2 separate regions of the Homo sapiens genome follow, and region 1 is linked to region 2. Evidence: fine-mapped expression QTL. A gene starts in region 2. The other region holds a variant in brackets. All regions are shown on one strand. Distances are from middle to middle. Region 1 overlaps MYLK (myosin light chain kinase). Region 2 holds the start of MYLK-AS1 (MYLK antisense RNA 1).

Region 1 (5,374 bases), 48 kb after region 2:
TTTAACTATAGGGTGGTCACTTCTTCATCCTCATCATCATCATGATGGCAGCAGACATTCATTGAGGTTTTTCTATGTGCCAGGCACTGGGTCAAGTGCCTAAAACAAGTGAACTCACTTAATCTTAACACTGCCCTATGATGCAAGTAATTCTTATAACTTTGTTTTACAGATGAGGGAATTGAGGCACAGCCCAGGCTCAAGTCACCTGCCCAAAGATTCACAGCCAGTGAGATTGGAAGCCAGGTATCTGCCTCTAGAGCCTGTCCTCTTAAATGCTATACTATCCTAACATTTCTGTAAAGATGAAGTAAATTGCAGTGTTCAGCACTGGCACCAGGCCTGGTCCACAGTAAGGAGGCGGTCCATGCCCGGAGATCTCATGCAGTTCTGCTGGGTTCCCTCCACTGCCTTACCAAGCTGTGAGTGCAGGAATGACTTTGTGACCAGCAGCTTAAGCCAAATAAACTTTATAAGGTAAAGAATTTCAAAACAAAATAGAGCAGATTTGTGGCTTACTGACCTTACCTCTCACCTCTGTGCACCTCACCTTCATAGCAACAACTCACCCCACTGTTCATGAGGGCCTTGTGAGTCAGCCTCATGGGTGTTAGACCAGCACAGTTGCCCACAGTCCCACCCTTAGACAGGCCCTGTGCTTGGTTTAATGCTCTGCTGCTGTCGTCTCAAGATTCTCAATAAGGTTTGAACAAGTGGCCCCACCTTTCATGTTGCAAATTGTGTAGCTGTTCCTGCCCTGATCTCAGCTGAGCCCCATGAGATGGGTCTGGGGGCCAGGCGTGGTGGCTCATGCCTGTAATCCCAGCACTTTGGGAGGCCAAAATGGATGGATCACCTGAGGTCAGGAGTTTGAGGCTAGCCTGGCCAACACGGTGAAGTCCTGTCTCTACTAAAAATACAAAAATTAGCTGGGCATGGTGGCAAGCACCTGTAATCCCAGCTACTCGGGAGGCTGAGGCAGGAGAATTGCTTGAACCCTGGAGGTGGAGGTTGCAGTGAGCCAATATCGCACCATTGCACTCCAACCTGGGCAACAAGCGAAACTCAATCTCAAAAAAAAAAAAAAAAAGAGAGATGGGTCTGGGGCCCTCCTGCCATCAACCTGTCAAGTTAGGGCTTTACCAATGTCCCTTCTCCCAAATGCTTATGAATCCATCATCATAAGCCAAGCACTGACAGCTTCAGGAGTAAGGCTTTGGTTGAGTTTGACAGAACAAACCCCACTTGAAATATTGGGAGAAAAAGCTTGCCATGGGAGGAACCCTCTGGTGAAACCTTTTGTAAAGAGAAGAAAGCTTTTACAATGTGAATTGTCTCATCCTAATCAACATATTTGTGTTTCTGAATAATAGATCTTTGTGGATGGGATTTTTTTTTAAAGCAAGACCCTGATTTATGTTTTAAGAAGGCAAAGAGAATCATTCTCGGTCATGTCCCCATGAGGGAAGGGTGGGCATTTACCTGTCCCCGAGTCTGCACTGTTATCTGCTGCTCCTTTCCCCTCTCTGGGCCTCAGTTTCTCCTTTTTCTTTTTTTTTTTTTTGAGACAGAGTGTTGCTCTGTTGCCCAGGCTGGAGTGCAGTGGTGCGATCTCTGCTCACTGCAAGCTCTGCCCCCTGGGTTCATGCCATTCTCCTGCCTCAGCCTCCCGAGTAGCTGGGACTACAGGTGCCCACCACCACACCCAGCTATTTTTTTTGTATTTTTAGTAGAGACGGGGTTTCACAGTGTTCGTCAGGATGGTCTCGATCTCCTGACCTCGTGTCGTGATCTGCCTGCCTCGGCCTCCCAAAGTGCTGGGATTACAGGCATGAGCCACCGCGCCTAGCCAGCTTCTCCTTTTATACATCAAGGGGACTAGGCTAGATTTCCTAGGGGCCTCCCAGCTCTCTCTGTCTCTGTGACCCCGACCCCCACGTGGCCCATGCAAGCCCCATCAGGAAGCAGCCTGTCTCTTGCCTGTCAGCCACCTGCTGCTTCTTTACATTTTCCACTGGAAACAGAGAGGGGGGAAGTCCGGCAGTACTCCAAAAGATGGCAGGAAAAGCAAACAACCCTGCTGTGGAATGCAGAAAGTTCCCCTTCTGCAAACCTCC[C/T]TTCCTTATTAGGAACTATAATCCTGCAAAGATAGGTCTTAATCTCTGCAACTCTGGGCACAGTCAGGGAGAGCCTCCTCGCCTCTGGCCTCTGGCACTCCTCCTTCCTGGCAGCCTATCCATCTGAAATACTCTCCTCACCCTGCCTGGCTCCTTGCCTGCCCAAGTTCCCCCAGCATTCTTCCTATTAAAGAGCATGTGTCTGGAATAAAAAATATAATACATACACAGCATGTTGACAAAGAGGGTGTTTGAATTTTCAGTAATGCTGTTGCTGGGTGGTGGGGTTTTACAGGATTTTTAAAAACCTTTTTGGGGAACTTTTTCTTTGTGGCAGAATTTGCATAAGGGATCATGTCTTTTAATTTTTTTTTTTTTTTTTGAGATGCGGTCTTGTTCTATTGCCCAGGTTGGAGTGCAGTAGTGCGATCTCAGCTCACTGAACCTCTGGCTCAAGCGATCCTTCCACCTCAGTCTCCTGAGTAGCTGGAACCACAGGTGCGCGCCAACACACCTGGCTAATTTTTTGTATTTTGGTAGAGATGGGGTTTCACCATGTTGCCCAGGCTAGTCTCAAATTCCTGAGCTTAAGCAATCCTCCCACCTCTGCCTCCCAAAGTGCATTACAGGCATGAGCCACTGTGCCCAGCCTTGTCTTTTTATTTATAAAATAGTCATTATTATTATTTCTTTTTATTTTTTTGAGACAGAGTCTCGCTCTGTCACCCAGGCTGGAATACAGTGGCGTGATCATGGCTCATTGCAGCCTCAACCTCCCCAGGCTTAGGTGACCCTCCCACCTAAGCCACCCAAGTAGCAGGGACCACAGGCGCACGCCACCATGCCCAGCTACCTTATGTATTTCTTGCAGAGATGGGGTTTTGCCATGTTGCCCAGGCTGGTCTCAAACTCCTGGGCTCAGGCCATCCACTCACCTTGGCCTCCCAAAGGGCTGGGAGTATAAGCATGAGCCACTGCGCCCAGCTAGATAACAGTCATTATTTGTTAAAAAAATCAACCGGTCAACAAATAATGTTAGCATTAAAACACCTCTTTATCTCCCTGGTCTTATCTAGTTTTTAACTAATGGATTGATCTGTTTTTCACAAAACTATAATCAGTCTGGGCAAGTCCTTGGATGCTTTACTTTTTCTTCACTGGATGTATCAAGTACAGCCAGACTCTACATGTTGATTTTTAGTGGTCAAATATTAGTCTTTGTGCTGATGAAACACAATGGTCATGAATGCAGGGCATTCTAATTTCTTAATTCTCAGCTCATTGCCAAAGAAATTCCCCCAGGGAATCTGATGTGGAAGCCTGTTTGGCTGTGGGGGCAGAAGGTTAGGAGAGCAGAGGGTGCAGAAATGCCTCTTGGACTACACTTTCTGTGTGTGTGTGTGCGTGTATGTGTGTGGGTTTTAAGAAATGGGGGTCTCGCTATATCAGCCAGGCTGGTCTTGAACTCCTGATCTCAAGTGATCCTCCCATCATAGCCTCCTGAGTAGCTGGGACCACAGGTGCACACTACTGCACCTGGCTTCTGTGTTGTGTTTCAAGCAGCAGACAGATGCCCCGACTGTACCAGTGGCCAGCTAAGGGGACCACACATCTGCTGATGGAACTACTGACTGCTAGGAAGGGGTTAGTCTTTTATCCATATTAGCCATCTGATACTCTGGTGGGAGAGCTGAGAGGGCTGAGTAGGTCCACAGGAAGAGCTGTGCATCATTTTGTGGACTGGCCGAGGAAGCAGCGACCTGGGGTTTAGTTGTGTTAGTAAAAGTTGAAGGTGGTGGCCGGGCTTGGAGAGGGAACAGGGATCCTAGGGCTGGAATCAGAGCGTATTTCCAGGCTCAGCAGCAGAGAGGGCAGCGGCAGCCCCAGGTGGGGAAGGCAGAGGTTACTGGATCTGGCTGAGGAGCCCTGCAGTCAGACCCTGGTCTGAGGAGGCCCCCGATGCCCCGGCACTGTGACCCCTCCTCAGCTGACTGGGCAGCTGTCACCAGAAGAGCTGACCTGCCTCCCCACCATACACACCTCTCCTCCCTCCTGGCATCTCCCGACCACACACCAGGGTGGGGAGGGACAGCTGACAGCTGTCTGCACCACGGTGGGTGTTGGACAAACAAACAAGCATGAATGGGAAGGCTGTGCTGCTGGGCCTGGTCAGGAAGAGGCAGGAGGAGGAAGCAGAGCAGCCATTGCTGGTTCGCTCTGGCTTGAGGGAGGCTGGGAGAGAAGGCATTGTGGAGTAGGGTGAGGGAAGGGCTCGGAGAAGAGCTGTTGTGGCCTCCCCACAGGCAGCAAGGAAGTACCAAGTCCAGGAAGTAGGGGAGGGAGACAGCAGGGGGAGGAGGGCTCTTAAACGGAGGTGGACTTAGGATTTCTCCCGTATGGAAGTGTGGCCTCCAGCTCTCTGGTATTCTCACTTCCTGCCAGAAACCACATGGGTATTGCTAACTTCAGAAGGTCTCTAGGTACTCACACAACCTACTATCTCCTTTCAGGATCCGGGGTAAGAGTGTGGGGGCTCCACGACCCCATTCTGCTCCTTCCCTATAGGGCCAGAAACTGCCCTGATGGCTGGGCTGGGTGGGAGAGAGTAAAGTCACATCGTCCTATGGTGACACGGTCTGTTGCCTTCCCTTCCAACTCCCTGGCCTCTCCATCTCTCACTGGCCCCAGAAAGGAGAACAGGAGGGGCTCTGTGGTACAAAGGTGGAAGTCGCCCTGACAGGGACTGCCCGACAGATGACTAGGCTCCAAAGAGAGGGATAGAGTGGGCCAGAGGATGCCATGAGGGCCACCAGAGAGCCTCTTTTGGGTGCTCCCAGCAGTGGCTCCAGAGTTCTGCATAGCAGGCGCTTAAAGGAAACCATCTCCTTGGCGCCAATGTTTGTTTTCAGCACCGCTCTCTGTTGAGAGCCCTGGCTTGCCGGGGGAACTCCCTGACTTCCATCCATGCTGAGAGAGCCAGGCTGGAAAAGCCCCAGAGGGCAGTGGCTCACAGTGGGGGTCCAGGAGCTAAGATGTGGCACAGGATTGATCCAGCCTGAGTCAGTGCCACCTGGCCTGGGTCCTTGCCACACACACACCCCTCCTCCCTCCTGACAACCCTCTGCCCAAGCACTGGCAGCATCAAAACTATCTTCTCCCCATTTCCAAAACTCTGCCCTAGTTCTTGGTCTTTGCTTTAAAAGTAATCTGGTAAACAAGGTAACATAGTGCCCAAATTACTATGTTCCTCCACCGAA
Region 2 (5,374 bases):
AAGAATTTCAAAGGCTTTTCAATTGAATAATAAAGGCTATGGTAGCTACCCTTAGCCAGGTATGCTCGGACCAGACCAACCGCTATAACCAGCCACCTAGTAAAAGAGAAAACAGCAATCAGGAAAAAATAAAAATAAAAAAAGTAGCATTTAGGTTAACACACAGCTGTGGCAATAAAAGATATTGCTAAAGGTGACCTCAAGCATGAGTAACCTGGATTTATGGACGATAGCTCTCAAATGCCAAGCTGTAATGCACTGAAATGTTGCAACACCGACAGCACCTTACCAAGAGGGCTCAGTGAAAGCATAGTGGCACCTCACCCATCTGGAGCTCATTTTTTTGGCAACTTTGCTATTGAGATCAAGGCCAAAAGGAAAGGAATAAGCTAAAATGGTCCTTGTGCCACTAAATCAGGTGCCAAGAAAATCTAAGACGAGAAAAAAACAGTTAAAGGAAAATTTTAAACAGCCTGTGCAGTTAAAGGGTTTTTAATAATTACAGGGTGGAAAGAAGATGCTTTAAACTATTGTTATAATTGTCTCACTGGAACAATTACCCATACCTTAAAATCTATCCTTTTAAAATTACGAATAAAGGGCTCTTGCTAAAAAAAAAAAGTTTTTTAGCCAAATTTCCTAAAATCAATGCAGAAATGAAAGCCAGATCAATACAAACCACGAAACAGGAAAGCACTTAAGCATACAGCTGTGAATGTTATATTTTTGTTCCACTGTCCTTCTCAAAAATAAACACAATGTTTTGTTAAGTTCCATAATAAAACAAATGGACCTTTTTATTAAGGTATGTCTCCTGGAAGGATTTAGATAAATGTATAGTATCAACTAGGCAATGGGGTGTGTGTGGTCTATGCTATTTCCAAAAACTATCACATAAGGACATCAAGTAAGAGTTTGTAAAAGAAGAAATTATTTAATGGTGTAACTGGTACAACCATTAACAGCCTTAAAAAAAAAGCTTACTTTGCTCTCACAATCCCAATTTATCTTCCTGGTTTAAGATACCACTCCTTACCCTCCACCCCATTCTCTATGTTCATTGCTCAGGAATAGACTTCTTTCTTCTTACCAATGTACCTCAAAATCCCTCTCCAGTCCAATGCCCTCACCGGCTCTTGCTAAGACAACAAGAATTTTATATATAAATATTAATACACACAGTGAGATTCCTGGATGTTTTTTTAAAAATCAATCTATGTGACCACTGATGTGATATAAAGCTTGTATCTGTACTAGTTCTTCATTGACCTGTGAGTCAAGAGAAATGATTTCTAGATCTGGAACTTCTACTAACAAGTTCTATGATCTCATGCAAGTCACAACTTCTCTGAGCCTAGGTTCCAACACCTACCATTTCTAATACTAGCAATACATATATGATCCTCCCACGATATATTTTCTTCTTCGTGAAAAAAAAGCAAGGTGCTGAACTGTAAAAATATTAATATATTGGCATTTGTCTTATTTTAAAAAGGGATAGGGGGATGTATAAACATATTTGCTTGCATCAGCATCTTAAGGATACACAAAATTAACTGCCTCGAGGGAGGGGAGCTGGGTAGAAGGGAAAGGTGGGAGGAAAGATTTTCACTGTATTCCCTCATGTTTTTCATTTTTAACCCTAACAATGTATCACCTACTTTAAATAAAAATGGATGTTCACTATACAATTCTTTCAACTCTTCTGTATGTTTGAAATTTTTCATAATAAAATGTTAGGACTTCTTAAAAAATTACAAATGAAGATAACTTAAAAATATATAACTGTCTGATGCTGTGATCCTCCTCACCAAAATGACAAGATAAAGAATTGCAGAGCTGAAGGAACCTTCATCACCCAGACCAACCCTTTAGTTTTACAAATGAAAAAACGGAGGCTAGAGAAATAAGATGATTTATCCAAAGTCACACAGCTAGTTAGTGGCAGAGCTTGAACTAAAAACCCGCCGGGATAAGGGATGCACTGAAATGAAAGAGACAGAAGATGGGTAAAACCGTTTCGAGGGTCCATTCTCCCCCTTTCCAGTAACTCTGCCTTCTACTCCCCAGTTTCTTCCCCACCCCAACCCATCCTAAAAGTCTAAACTCATCTAAAGCCTAGCTCTGCTCATGTCGCTGGCCAAAAACTTTGAACGCTTTCCCAATACCTTTCAGATTAAAGCGCAGCCCAGATTTTGAAAACAGCCGCCCAAATGAATGGTCACTCTGCAGCCACAGCTCCTCCACTCCCCATGCTGGCGCCGTTCAACATCCGAATCTGGCCGCCCAGGACGGGCTCCGCGCCGCAGGTAGTCCGGCCGCTGCCCCCGGCCCCGCACCTGTGGCCAGCCCCACCTTTCCTCCCGCGGCCCTCGCGAGCCAGCGCCCGGCAGCCGTCCCCGCGCCCCAGTGCCTGGGAACTTGGCTCGACCCCCAGCGCAGGAGGGAGCTCGCGGGCAGCCACCGGGGCCGATTCAGCGCTCGGCCGCCCTCAGCGCCCAGGTACCGGGTCCCGGGCACCCCCCGCCGGGAATGCACTGCCTGCGGCGGGCCGCGCCGATCCTATCCGCCCCGCCGCTGGCCGCAGGGCTCCCTCCCCGGCCGCGCTGGCTCCCCGCCTCCCCGAGCCCCAGCCTCACCCGGCTGTCATCACCACATTGTAGATGACCAGGTACGCCGTGGCCAGGGGCCCCGGGCCCTTCTTCTTCCGCGTGCCGCTGGCGTCCCCGGCCCCGGCCCTGCCACCGCCGCCCCCATTCCCCTTCGCTGCTGCAGTCGCCGCCACTGCCGCCATGTCAAGTGCCCGAAGCCCGCTCTCCTAGCGCGAGCGGCTCGGGCCGGACTACGCGAGGAGAGGGGGCGGAGGAAGGGACGAGGGGCAGGCGGGGCCAGGGCCGCGGGGCGGAGCCGGGACAGGGTCCACGGCAGCCGCCATCTTGGCTGAGGGCAAAGACGCTCCTGGCGCTCCCGTCTTTCGGCTTGCCTCAGTTGCCACTGCCATCTTGGATCAGGGTAATTCCCGCCTCTTGGGCGCTCCCGGTTACAACCTCGGCGCCATCTTGGATTAGTTCAATGTAGCCACCCTCTCCAGGCCCGCTGCTTCTGCCAGCTGGATGTTGCGTCGTCCCTCGCTATTCGCCCTCCTATAATCACTGCTTCCATGTTGAATCAAAACAATTATGCTTTCGTTCTCCCTTCTTCAATTGCCCTATCTTCACACCTGAACACTATTGCTCCGGTATCCTGCCATTTTGGATCAGGGCGGTTGACGGTGGATTCACTTCCCATCAGCCCTTGAGGCTGCAGGGACCAGCCCTTTGGTAGGTGCGCTTTGCTTCCTAACCCGTTGCCGGGTTGGAGATTCCACCTCCGAAGTTTTCTTTCTGACTTTTGATTTTACATTCCTAGTACAGTGGAGAAGCCCAGGCGGCCTAGAATCCAGTGTCGTCCGTGAGTGCTTGGCTGGTGTTCAAGTGCATCTTCCAGCCTGAGACCGCGTGGACTCGCTCATCGTGAGGGCGAGAGGAGGATAAGCCCATTGGGCTGTCGGCTGAGAGTGAGGTGCGGGGTAAGGGAGTAGATTTATAGCTATAGTGACTAAAAATAAAAGGATGTTGGCTTAGGTGGAAAACCTCTCTGCTTTGGGAAGCTGGAGCAGCTTGTGGGCATTGCTTCAACCAGCTGATCCCACTTTCCATTCATTGCTTTGTTTCAGGAGGTTCTTTATTTGTAAACGTCCCCTGCAATTTTTTACACACCCAAGCAGCTCCTTAAATGTATTACTGTATATGTGGTAGTATAAAATATTTATGGGTTCATTCCAGCAAGTGTTTATGGAGCGTCCACAAAGTTGCCCTGGAGTTCATGGCACTAAGTGAAAGAGACAAAGTCGTCAGTCTCCCAGGGATTATATAGAGCAGCGGCCCCCAACCTTTTGGTCAACAGGGACCGGTTTCGTGGTGGGGGGGTGGATGATGGTTTCAGGATGATTCAAAGGCATTACATTTATCATTAGATTCTCATAAGGAGCACACAACTTAGATCCCTCCAATGCGCAGTTCACAATAGGTTCCCCGCTCCTATGAGAATCTGATGCCACCGCTGATCTGAGGGAGGCGGAGCTCAGGAGGTAATGCTCCCTTGCTTGCTGCTCACCTCCTGCTGTGCCTCCTGGTTCCTAACAGGCCAGGGATTGGTTCTATCCGCAGCCTGGGGCTTAAGGACCCCTGAGGGAACCAGACGAAAATGCTCGTATTAGTTGGTGAAAAGTGGTATCAGGAAGTTATTACAATAATCCAGCCATGGTGATAGTGGTGTGGGCCAGAGTGGTGGAAATCGAGGTGATGAAAACAACAATGAATTCTGTGCGTATTTTAGAAGTAGAATTATAAGATTTGTGGATATGTTAGTTTTGGAGTGTGAGGTCAAAGGCGTTTTGAGCAACTTGTAAGAAACCATTTTTAAGGCGGAAGTCGGGAATTTTGTTTTTTATATGTTGAATTTGAAATCCTTATTAAACATCCAAGTGGAGAGGCTGGATAGACAATTAAATTTAGACCCTGAGGTTCGGGAAGGAAGTCCAATGGGCTAGAGATATAAATTTGAGAGTTGTCAACCTAAAATAATAAAAAAGGTAAGAATCTAGTTTAAAGGAAGTTTATTCAAGCATAAAGGTTGAAGATGGCTACCTGGGAGCATAGATTCAAGTTACCCTAAATATACACTCTGATTAGCAGCGGTTATGAGTGGGTTTTTAAAGGAAAAAGAGGCAGCTTCTAAGTTGTTTACTAAGAATTTACATTAAAATTACATTAGCTATTGATTGGCTATAAACTATTCTTTGTATCACAGATTCCAGGAACATGAAGATAATGGGTGAGGCTGCTAGTCAGGAACAAAATGTCTAAACAGTTGCCCCCAGGCAAACTCTTGTCTCTGGGCCTGATAAATTTTTGCATACTTCACATAGCTCAGACAGCTCAGAGCTGTTTGAGGTATTATCTTTTCTCAGAGTTCTGAGGGTGGTGGTGGTATTTAAATCCATGACACTGTAATCACCCAATACGTTCTTCCTTCCCACTGCACAGACAAAATCAATTCATAGAGACCATGGCATTGCAATAAAGAATTTAATTGACATGAGATAGGTCTTGGAGATGGAGTTATTACTCCAAATCTCCCCCAAAATTCAGAGGGTAGGGTTTTTCAAGAATAGTTTGGCTAAGATCTGAGAGCTATAGTCAAAACAAAACAAAACAAAACACCCACCCCCCCCCCAACACACACACAGTTTGGCAGGCAGGAGGCTGGAGGAATGGGTGCTGCTGATTGGTTGGGAATGCAATTATAGGGGTGTGGAAAATGGTCCCCCTGC

Evidence for each region. PIP is the estimated chance that this variant, and not a neighbour inherited with it, causes the effect. A credible set is the group of variants that fine-mapping cannot tell apart.
Region 1: its variant is the best candidate, but not a certain one, in a credible set for the expression of MYLK-AS1 in whole blood (TOPMed, PIP 0.68).

Annotation. Positions count from the first base shown.
Region 1 is chr3:123,630,324-123,635,697 of GRCh38, forward strand. The region is part of intron 29 of MYLK (myosin light chain kinase); the gene reads right to left. It overlaps MYLK-AS1 (MYLK antisense RNA 1), which reads left to right. Exons shown (of 4, transcript NR_121654.1): 4 at 173-498. Among named protein-coding and RNA genes, the nearest start is that of MYLK-AS1, 47 kb to the left of the region's middle. RefSeq lists a silencer at 4,999-5,293. The variant C/T (reference allele first, on the strand shown) is at 2,118.
Region 2 is chr3:123,582,234-123,587,607 of GRCh38, forward strand. MYLK-AS1 (MYLK antisense RNA 1) reads left to right here and starts at 3,280. Exons shown (of 4, transcript NR_121654.1): 1 at 3,280-3,320; 2 at 3,414-3,568. It overlaps HACD2 (3-hydroxyacyl-CoA dehydratase 2), which reads right to left and starts at 2,820. Exons shown (of 7, transcript NM_198402.5): 1 at 2,640-2,820; 2 at 1-96. The coding sequence starts at 2,794. RefSeq lists silencers at 2,145-2,324, 2,335-2,944 and an enhancer at 3,005-3,304.